Linked DNA regions of Homo sapiens. The protein of the gene in region 2 interacts with the protein of the main gene of each other region in a pairwise test. Each region holds a gene or a part of one and is shown on either strand. Other genes may lie near its edges.

Region 1 (2,877 bases), 150 kb from region 2:
CACTGTATCTGTCACCGAGGAGATGGGGTGAGGAGGGAAGGGCCACGAGGGAGATGGGGGAGGCTGGTCTGGTTTGAAAGGCAAGCAGTCTGTGGTGGGCAGTTTTCTGAAGGGGAAGTGCATTCTGTAGTGACCCTTTCAGCTCCAGGCACATGAGGAGACTTAGAGGAGGGGACATTAAGCAAAAATCCCAGGTGTTATGTCAGTGGTGGGCCTGGGGGCGCCTACCTGCATATAGTGGACAACTCTGGTGAGAACACTGTGTCGATCTGATGGTTTTTTTGGATCCAGTGAAACGACTAGGAGTTGAAGACTTGCCCACACAGTCAATGGAAAAGAGGAGAGAGAATTCAGCTCCCTATGCGAGGCTTGTGGGGCAGGAAGGCTTCTTATGAGATAGAGCTGCATCCTTCCTTCTGCGAGAGCAAGCCTGAACCTATGTTTGCAGCAGACTTAAGGAGAGTGGTCCTCAGAGGGGTCAGAGCAAGGCAAGCCACTGGGAAGGAGGCAAAGGCTTGGCAGGGGAGCTGGAGCCCCAGGAAGCTTAGCATGGATGTTGGAATAAGGGTCAGAAGTAGCACAAATTGGCTCCTCAGCTGTGTTGACACACAGGAGCCGGTGGCTCCAGGCTCTCCCCTCTGTGTCTCCAGATTCCAGTTTCTCCCAGCTGATGGAGCAGGCACTGTCTGACAGATTTGGGACAACTTCAGGAATTCAGTTAATTGACAATTATATCAAATGTTTATTTTAAAAAATAATAAAACATTCACATAATGTTGTCACAATTTTGGGTGGGAAAAAAGCATGTGTATCTCTATATCTCTGTGTACTAGAAAACAACAAAGGGATATAAAATTAAATAATAACCAGTATTTAAAAGTTAACTTGAAAATCCTCGTTGATAATTCAGCAGCATGCTTCTGGTCAGCCTATACAGTCTCTGTCCTGGTGAGGAGCATGATCACCAACAGGCAAGATCTTCTGGCCTTGAAGTTTCGCTTGAGTTAAAAGAGCTCATCTCAGGTAAGTAACAGGCCAAGAATGGTGGGCACCGTGACCACTAGCCAACTTGCAATCCATTCTACTCCAAAGGACCGGGCTGAAAGAGCAAGAAAACCCTATATGCTTAGGTATCTTTATCTTGACTAATGTATTGAGAAGGGGCAAGTGTACTGGACACTGGTGTGGGAGCTCACAGAGCAGGGAAATTAATTTCTTCCCTGAATCCCATCCTATTTGGCTGGGACATTCTTTTCCTCAATCTCCCCAAACATAAAGTATAAAAAATGCAGAAATTCCTTAAATATCACTGGCTTACCTGGGCCCTGTGCTCAAAGGTTACCTCGACATATCTGTGGCCTGGGAAAGCATTGCTCCCCTACTCTGGACATCAACGAGGTAGGGTAGATCTTCAGGTACAGACAGATGACCACATGATACAATGCACAGCTGACTTTAGAGAGAAAAGGACCACTTCCTTTCCTTGTTTCTCTACCCCACTAAGTATCTGCACCAACTAGGAAGAAGAAGGGAAGAGAAAGGAAGACAGAAAAGGAAAGGAAAAGAAAAAGGATGGAAGGAAAGCTTAGATGCTGGGGTGGGGAAGGGCTGAGCTGGAGAAAATAAAAAAAAGGAATGAGTGATACAGTAGGGAAAGGAGTTTGAGGGGGCTTTCTAGGATAATTTCGGTGACTAAAAAGTGACAGATGGGTTTACCCTTCCAAAAAAAATGGATTTATTATTGCTTTTATCCTCTCTTCGGATGAACAGTCACACCCATTTTATAGAGGACAGGGAATGTGCGTCTTCCTTTTTCTGGATCTCAGGATGTGATATTGATATGAGGGTGGTGTTGGAACCACCAGCCAAATTGTGTTCTCATGGTCAGATACCACACTGTCACAGTGGGTCTGTGGTGGCAGAAGAGCAAGGCATATCAGGAGAGGCTGGTAGAGACAGGGCCAATTAGTTAGGAAGAATAAGGAAGAGCATACACAGTCTCCGTAGTCCACATGTGGGAGTAGAGATAAAGAAATCAGTGCAGTTAAGGAGGGTAGACAGAGCCCAGGAAGACCACAAAACAGCAACGTTCTCAGAGGCCAGAATCCCTGATGACTGGGCATGACAGGGGTCACAGGTGAATGTGAGCACCTCAGGTCTGAGTTATTCTAGAAGAATGTGTACGCTAGGGCTCAGGGATCTGACTTCAGGATTGTGGAGGGTATCTGACTCTGGTATTTCCCAGAGTGCTGGAGATATTGATCCAAGTTTATTAAGGGTCCCCAAAACTCTAAGAGACTGCGTCTCATTTAGCTCCCGCTTACTAAGGACTTGTCAGCCACTGTGATAGGCAGTTACGTGTCTTGTCTCATTGAATCCTTAGCACGAGATAGGAACTGTTATTTTGTCCTTTATTTAGGAAGAACATGACTTGGGGAAGCTAAGTAACTTGTTTAGCTAGTAAGTGACAGTCCTAGAAGTGACCCCAGGTATGACTGACTCTAAAACCCATGGCCTTAGCTGTCCCATGCTAGCACCAGTGTAGGCCTGATCTAGAGCCAGGTGTGACACTCATGAGTGGATCCTCCCAGGAGACAGGGGAATCTGGCTTCCTAAGTTCATCTAGGAACATCAGGCTGGGGAGGAGAAGCTTCGCCTGAGGCTCAGGCTCTCACGCCTCCTCGACGGCCTCTCTCAGGCCCGTCTCCTCAGTCCCTCTTTCCCTGGCTGACTTTGGCGGTCTAATGACCTCGGTCCCTCTTTCCTTGGCTGACTTCGGCTGTCTAATGAAGCCCCTCTAGACAGCTGCTCGCCCACTTGCCCTTCCTTCTCCCTGCTCACCCTGATGTTTCAGTCTACTCTATGATGACCCTGGCC
Region 2 (7,300 bases):
ATGGGTAGTGGGGGAGGTTGGGGGATGCTCTCCATGCCTTAATTTCTCTGAGTATAAATGGAAAGTATAATTATACCTATCTTGTAGCATTCTGTGAGGACTAAATAAAATAATCCATGTGAAGACACTGGCAGGCTACCTTATCCATAATAAACCCCCAAGAAATGTTGAGTCCCTCCTTTCCAGTCCCTAAATGCTCTGATGGGAATCAATTCAACCACCAGGCTCAGTGGTCATCTCTGAACAGTGTTGACCCCTGAAGAAGATTAAGCTCACCTATGTCCTGGAATGGCTCCCAAAGACTTGCTAATTTTAGAAAATCATTTAGAGTCCTTTATCTTCCCCTCTCTGACCCCTCCTCCGAACACTCTTGGAAAGGAGAGATGTCCAGTTTGTGGCCCACAGCCTGGGAACTAGCTCGGGGACGGCCCTAATTTAAAACCCAAGCTGCCCAGTAAGTATCATATCTAAACACGCAATATGATCTTGGGTCAGACCCTCACTCTCCTTGGGCTTCAGTGTCTTCATCTCTAAAACAAAGACTTGCATTAGAAGATCTCTAAATTCCCTACAACTCTGAGACTGTGTGAATGATCTTTTCCTAAGTGTACCCTTTCATGGCTAGATTTCAGGGCTATGCAACAGACAGTAAACCCATTGAGGAGTTCCAGAATCTTACCACTTCATAGATAGTGCTATTGAAGGAAGGGCTGTGGTTCCTCTTCCTGGATCCAGACTAGAAATTCAGAAGGTAAAGAATACTTAACTTCGAGATAAGTGCTCTCCCACTCCTAAGTGATGTGAGAGGTCCCAAAAGAGACTCAGGGCCCAGAAAAATTCTGAGGCACTCTCAGCCAGAAAATGAATAGAATCTGTCACCCTAGGAGCAAAACAATGGTGTTTATGGTCTCCAGGGAAGACACAATATATACAGTATTTGCCTATAATATGATATTTCTGAACCAAAATCAGAATTTGCTGTTCCATACCCACATACACCTAAAACCCATACACATATGTGTGTGTGTGTGTATATATATATATATATACACACACACATATATATACATATTTGTGTATATATATACACACACACATTCCCAGAGCACACACACATACACATACACATACACATACACATACACACATATCCCTCAGGCAATCCTAATGCAAATACTGCCCCAAACCATGTATCTCTTCAACGCATGCATACACACACCCTTAATGTAAACAATCCAGGCATATAAATAATTGCCAACCCAAGGACACTAGAATTCAGAGGCACATTCAGTAGCATATAGAGTTTACATACACCAAAGCAGGTGAACATGGTGCCTGTGAACATCTATATGGCCTTATATTGTAGCATATAATTAAAAACAAATCTCTCTCACGATGGGATCCAAGTAGGTTGAATGGCTTATTGGAAGGAGGTTGAATGAAAAGTCTGAAAATCTGTCCTAAACCCCTTCAAACCTGTGGTCCCTGACCTGCATGGACTTCCACAGTTGTGTGGACTCCCAAATTCCCATACTACCATGTTAAGGCTTTCTGGCTTCACACTGTGGCTCCAGCCTTGGGAACACCACTCTTCCCATCCCCTTCCATACAAGAGAAAAACAATGACCATGTGTACCAGGATACCCAACTCTGTTTCCAAGTACACAAGAGAGCTACGAACTCAGCTTGGAGAAGGATTTCAGTGCAAAAGGATGGGTTGCCTCAGTCCAGAGGCCTCCACCAGCAGGTGACTGACTGGCCAGGACCTTTCTCTGGTCTCTGAAGGTCAAGATTGTGTCTCTCTAGATCCAGTCTACTCCTCCAGCTCCAGGCAATATGCCCTGCCTTGCAAACCCCTCCAGTATCTCTCACCATAGCCTCAGCTGACCTACTAAGTACCCCGTAGTCTCTCTGTGCAAAGCACCTCCTTTCTGTCTCTGACTGTCCTTTACCTCCCACAGAAACTCCCAAAAACTCATCTAGTCTACTGTTCTCTTAGTCTAGAAGCTGTTATTTTTCTCCAGACAGAACCAGTAAGGCATTTCTCATTGGCCCATTGACATTTAAATACAGTCATTTAACAGAAGCTACTCAGATACACACAATAAAGAACAACTTGCCAGGATGTGCACACACACTCTCACTGCAAACACATGCAAAATACACATCTACATCAACAACACCCCACCACCACCACGGGAAGAGGCTCACCTTCCTGGAAGGCTGAATTAATGAATATAATGTATATGCAGGTTCTTGTGACGTGGGAGCAGAAGACTAATGAGAAGAGAAATAAAATCATTTCAGAAGCACAGATCCAGCACAATCTTACAAAGGTTATCTCTTCCGTTTCTCCTCCTCAACCCTGCCCAGATGGAAGCTTCAAGTGTTAGTGAAAAGAGCCCTGGACTAGCCAGGAGGTCAGACAACCTGAGTGCTAGTCTCGCTCTGTCATTAATGAAAGCTTCTATTTGTTGAGCATTTATCTTATACATGTATTCTCCTCTAACTGTTTTTTTGTTTATTTGTTTTTGAGACAAGAGTTTCGCTCTATTGCCTGGGCTGGAGTGCAATGTCTCGATCTTGGCTCACCGCAACCTCTGCCTCCTGGGTTCAGGCAATTCTCCTGCCCCAGCCTCCTGAGTAGCTGGGATTACAGGTGCCTGCCATCATGCCCAGCTAATTTTTGTATTTTTAGAGACAGGGTTTCACCATGTGGGCCAGGCTGGTCTCAAACCCCTGACCTCGTGATCCGCCCGCCTCGGCCTCCCAAAGTGTTGGGATTACAGGCATGAGCCACCGCGCCTGGCCTCTTCTCTAACTCTTTTAACACTCCTATAAAATAAGAATGATCATAATTTGCCCCATGCCACAAATGAGGCTCCAAAAGGATAAATAGCCCAAGTCAGGCAGTGCGTACACAGTAGAAGCAGAATTCAAACCCAAGACTCTCCAGGGCTCTTTCCTCAACACCTCAATGCCTCCCTTTGGCAACTTGCCTCCCTTCCCTGGACTGGAACCAGGTGTCCTCTAAATCAGGTAAACATTCTCCTTTTAAGATGCTCCAGAGGAGGACTGTCATTCTCACCCAACACCATAGTTTGAGGGGACCTCTTTCTTGCACTGATAGAAATTCCTCTCATTGGAGTTCAATGTGGCTGAAACTAGAGAACTGGCAGATATCAACCGCTCTTATAATCAGATTTTCTTTGCCCCACAGCTCAGCCACCAAACTGAAGATGGTGCTCAATTTTTTTTTTCTTTTTTTTAAAGCCATTTTTATCAGAAAGTCTTTTATTACTGGCCACCAGGAGGCAGTGTTTCCCTTGGGAGAGATGTCCCAGCCTGGGTTATCAATGTCATTTTAGCCATCAGTATTAAAGGATGCTTCTCCAGTTTATGAGTGAATTTCTGTAATCCCAGAATATAAGAGGTGGAGTATGAGGAGGTGCAATGGAGACTCAGAAACCCTTTGGCTCAGCTCTGCCACTACCTAGCTATGTAGCCTTGAGATATCAGTTGACCTGAGTCTCGGTTTCCTCATTGTGATATGGAATGTAGACCACATCTAAAGTATTAGAACTATTTTCATGAGGCTGTTATGTGAGATTTAGTAAGAAAATACAGCTGGGTGCAGTGGTACACACCTGCAGACCTAGCTACCCAGGAGGCTGAGGTGGGAGGATCACTTGAGGCCGGGAATTCAAGGCTTCAGTAAGCTATGATTCTACCATTGCACTCAGCCTGGTAGACAGAATGAGATCCTGTCTCATAACGGGTATACCAAAAATCTCACAAATCACCACTAAAGAACTGACTCATGACACCAAATGCCACCTGTTCCCAAAAAAACCTATGGAAATAAAAAATAAATAAAGAGACCCTGTCTCTAAACAATAAAATTGTTTTAAAAGAAAAGAAAATGGACATTATTGCTAAGTCATAATAAAATAAAAGAGATCAATGCAGATTCATTCTTTCCTGAAAACGAATATAATAGGGAATAGGGATAAAAAGTGCAAGGGCCCCAAGTATTAGAAGCAGCAGCAGGGCAAGAAAGCAGAAGTTGAGTCCCCTAACCAGGTTTCTGCTCCTATAGACTTTATCTGGGCCAGACCTTCTGCCAGACACGGAAGAAGAAGGAATGTCCACATCAGGCTTCCCAGCTGTGTTAAGATGCTCTAGTATCACACGGATCTTTTCAAATAATGTGTTAATGCAACTGAAGCCAAGCTATCTTCTGGATTCTAGAAGCACCAAGATCTTATTCTGCCATTCAATGGTGTGAGTTTCAGGGGGGCATTAGGAAACCCCAGAGATAGGTATGGAATGGACTAGAGAAACTGGAGAGGTACCTGGGACTGGATCATAGAGTAGATGGTGCTCCCCCCTCCAGGAAAAGTCTGCTCCTGCTCCTGCACAAGAAATGGAGATGGGGTAACATGAGCGACAGTTCGGTCTGTCCAGATTTAGATTGAGTGGGGAAAAACAGCACAAAGAAGAGGGCTTTTCAGGAGACTGGGAGGGAGGTGGCAGGACTGGGGAGAGTCATTGATCCTCCCAAGATGGGAAGAGACAGGAAGAAGAGCAGTTTGGAGTGGAACCATTAGTATCAGGAGCAAGGAACCACCTAGGTGTGAGGGGTTCCAGCAACCCTGCTCAAAGAGAATGCTGTCACTTTCTTTCCTTTAGTAACTTAGAAACCCTTCCTTGCAGAGCTCTGAGTAGGGCTGTTATCTGAGCCTTACCTCAGAGCACTGAAATTCAGAAAGTTTAAACATTTCAAAGACCAAACACAGTTAAGCCCTCTCTAGATCATCTTTGAGGCCACCTTGCCCTTGACCTCAAGTCAGCGCCCTGGGCAGCTATAGTGCTGGGTGCAGCCCTGAACCCAAGGGCCAAAGCAGGAAGCAGAGCTTCCTGCTTCCCTTTTCTTGTTCCTACCCCTTAGGAAATCGGTGGTGGAGGTATTTCATGCTGCCGGCCACTGAAAGCATATTGCCAGTTTGGGTTCTACTGGGAGCCAGTGGAGGCAGCAGGGTTCATTAGGCAAGGTGCAAGCAAAATTCCTGGAAGCAAGAAGAAGCTAAGAGAAGCAGAGAACTGTCAGCTGTCCTTAGAGGCTGGGGAGTCATGGGCATCTGACAATGTCAATAACTTCATTTGTGTTTTAAAATACTGCAGGAGTTTGTTGCTTTTCTCTCCCGTCCAGACCCGTGTGAAGTGTTTCTAGAAAGATTAGAGCTGGGTCTCAAAGTGAGACCACATGAAACTTGAGATTTAGGCCTTCAAATTGGAGCCCTGAGACAATAGGGAGAGGCCAGAGAGGGCTGAGGCCAGGCAGGGAGGAGCTCTTGAGTCGGAAGAAGTAAGCTAATAGGCCTGAATCCCAAAGAGGTTTCCTTTGCTCTAAGTTGTTTTTCCTCCTGTGGTCTCCTAATCTCAAGTCATCTTCTTTTTGGAAAAATAGATTATTTTTAGCAAGCACCCGGGCATCACTGGCTGTGGGTAGATTCACATGCTTTCAGGAATTTGTACCAGAGTCTGGTAGCAGTGAGAGAAACAAAGTCCCCTTTTATTATTCACATTCCAATAGCCACTGCTTTATTTTTCACATTCCCATAGCCACTGCTGGGGCAAAAATAAATAAATAAATAAAGATAAAAATAAAAAAACAGGCATGGGGAGCTGCTCTAACAGCCTCTGAACCCAGAGGCATCTGGGAGAGGATGCTTGCCTGCTCTGCGAGGCTGCACAGGGCCTCACGTATGTGGCCAGCACGGAAGAGCCCCACCACATGTGCTTCCTGCGTGCTGCTGGGTCTCCACAGCAAAGCGCCAGGGGGCAGTGGAAAGAAGGCACTTCCGCCCCACTTCACCCACCCTGCCCCACTTCCTGCCAGCAGTTTGGTAGGCTCCATCAGAGCTTTTCCCCTGGGCCTGTCACCACATCTGCCCTAAGCGAGACACAGCAGTGGGGGCATCTGCAGGCCCTCTGCAATTTCCTCCTCTTCTAATTCTTGGATGACAGGCAGAGTTGGCCCCTGCCTGCTGCGAAGAGCAGGCGAGAGGCTCCTGGAGGAGCCTACTCAGGCTGGTGGGCTTTGTGCCAGGCTGGTTACTCTCTCTAGTACCTCAGCCACACTCAGGCCTCTTCTTCCAAAAGGCTGTGAATGCAGCCTATTGAGCCAGCTACAAAACTATTATGCTTTGGCTGGTCACACTTCCCAGCCTGTGTCACCATTAAGGGACTCATGAATGTAAGCCCTGACTCATTAGGAAAAAGAATTTGTGGTCAGACAACAAATACCACAGCAGCACTCTGCCTCTGTCATTGATTTCTGTTGTGCTCCATCCCTTCTCAGCAGGTGCAATTCTGCACCAAGATGCCCCTTCAGCCTCCCTTTCATCTCCTCTGCTCCTTTTGTTTCCTCTTTTCCTCCATCACCAGAACTAGGAAGCAGGTGGAGAAAAGATAGATGGGGAAGGGCTGAGGGTCACATCAAAAGGACAGTCGTTCAGTCCTTTTTGTCCCTCTGCTCTGAATAACCATCATTGAAAGAGCATTTTCCAAGCCAGCTGAGAGAGACCCCAGCCTCCGGGATGACATACGTGATTTCTCCTGGTTTTCAGATCCTTGACATCTTCGTAAATTGTCAAAAATTCCTTGGGACTGGTCTCTGAGGGAGGAAGAAAACAAAGAGCAGAGCTGCAGAAACCTCCAGAAGGGCTTTTGCTTCTAACAGGTCCCACCTCTACCCCAAATGGCCAAACCTTAAAAAAGGTTCTAGAAAGGAGGCAAGTTAATGCTCTTCCCAGGAACCCCAAAGAGCACAGAGGCAGCAACCGAACTGCCCCTCCCACACCTCCTCCCAAACCAGCTGTCTACAGGGAAATCTGCGCATTGGGATCAGAAGGCATGAACTGGGAGAGAGAGCCTAGCAACCTGCTTGCCCCCCGCCACCACGCACACAAACATACCAAAGCTCGTTGAGGAAAAGGAGATGCTGTGCTCCCAGACACATCCCACTGGACGCAGGACAAAGTCACAGGATCCAAGGCCTCAGGCAGGAGCACCACCCTAAGGACCTTCCACTCACCTGACTGCTTCTCCTTCCTCTTTCTCCTCCACACACAGAAGCAGGCAAGGGTGCCAAGGAACAGTGCGCTTAGAATCACGATGATCACCAAAAACGGCCAAAATCTGAATTCTGAGGAATACAGAAGGCGTGAGAACTGAGCTGTCAGCTCGCTCTCTTCTTCCTTCCCACCTGCCTGCTGCAGGGGCTGCCTCAAAACCC

The links.
Region 1: the proteins of CD244 (region 2) and CD48 interact in binary tests that used the Homo sapiens proteins (3 or more experiments, as listed by UniProt).

Annotation. Positions count from the first base shown.
Region 1 is NC_000001.11:160,678,033-160,680,909, forward strand, and holds the end of CD48 (CD48 antigen isoform 1 precursor), read right to left. Parts: exon of another isoform or gene 2,395-2,877; intron 1,100-2,394; coding exon 1,020-1,099; 3' UTR 714-1,019; downstream 1-713. UniProt on the Homo sapiens protein: Glycosylphosphatidylinositol (GPI)-anchored cell surface glycoprotein that interacts via its N-terminal immunoglobulin domain with cell surface receptors including CD244/2B4 or CD2 to regulate immune cell function and activation.
Region 2 is NC_000001.11:160,831,840-160,839,139, forward strand, and holds part of CD244 (natural killer cell receptor 2B4 isoform 1 precursor), read right to left. Parts: intron 7,211-7,300; coding exon 7,100-7,210; intron 6,680-7,099; coding exon 6,612-6,679; intron 4,416-6,611; coding exon 4,356-4,415; intron 2,278-4,355; coding exon 2,212-2,277; intron 881-2,211; coding exon of another isoform or gene 851-880; exon of another isoform or gene 737-850; coding exon 680-736; intron 1-679. UniProt on the Homo sapiens protein: Heterophilic receptor of the signaling lymphocytic activation molecule (SLAM) family; its ligand is CD48.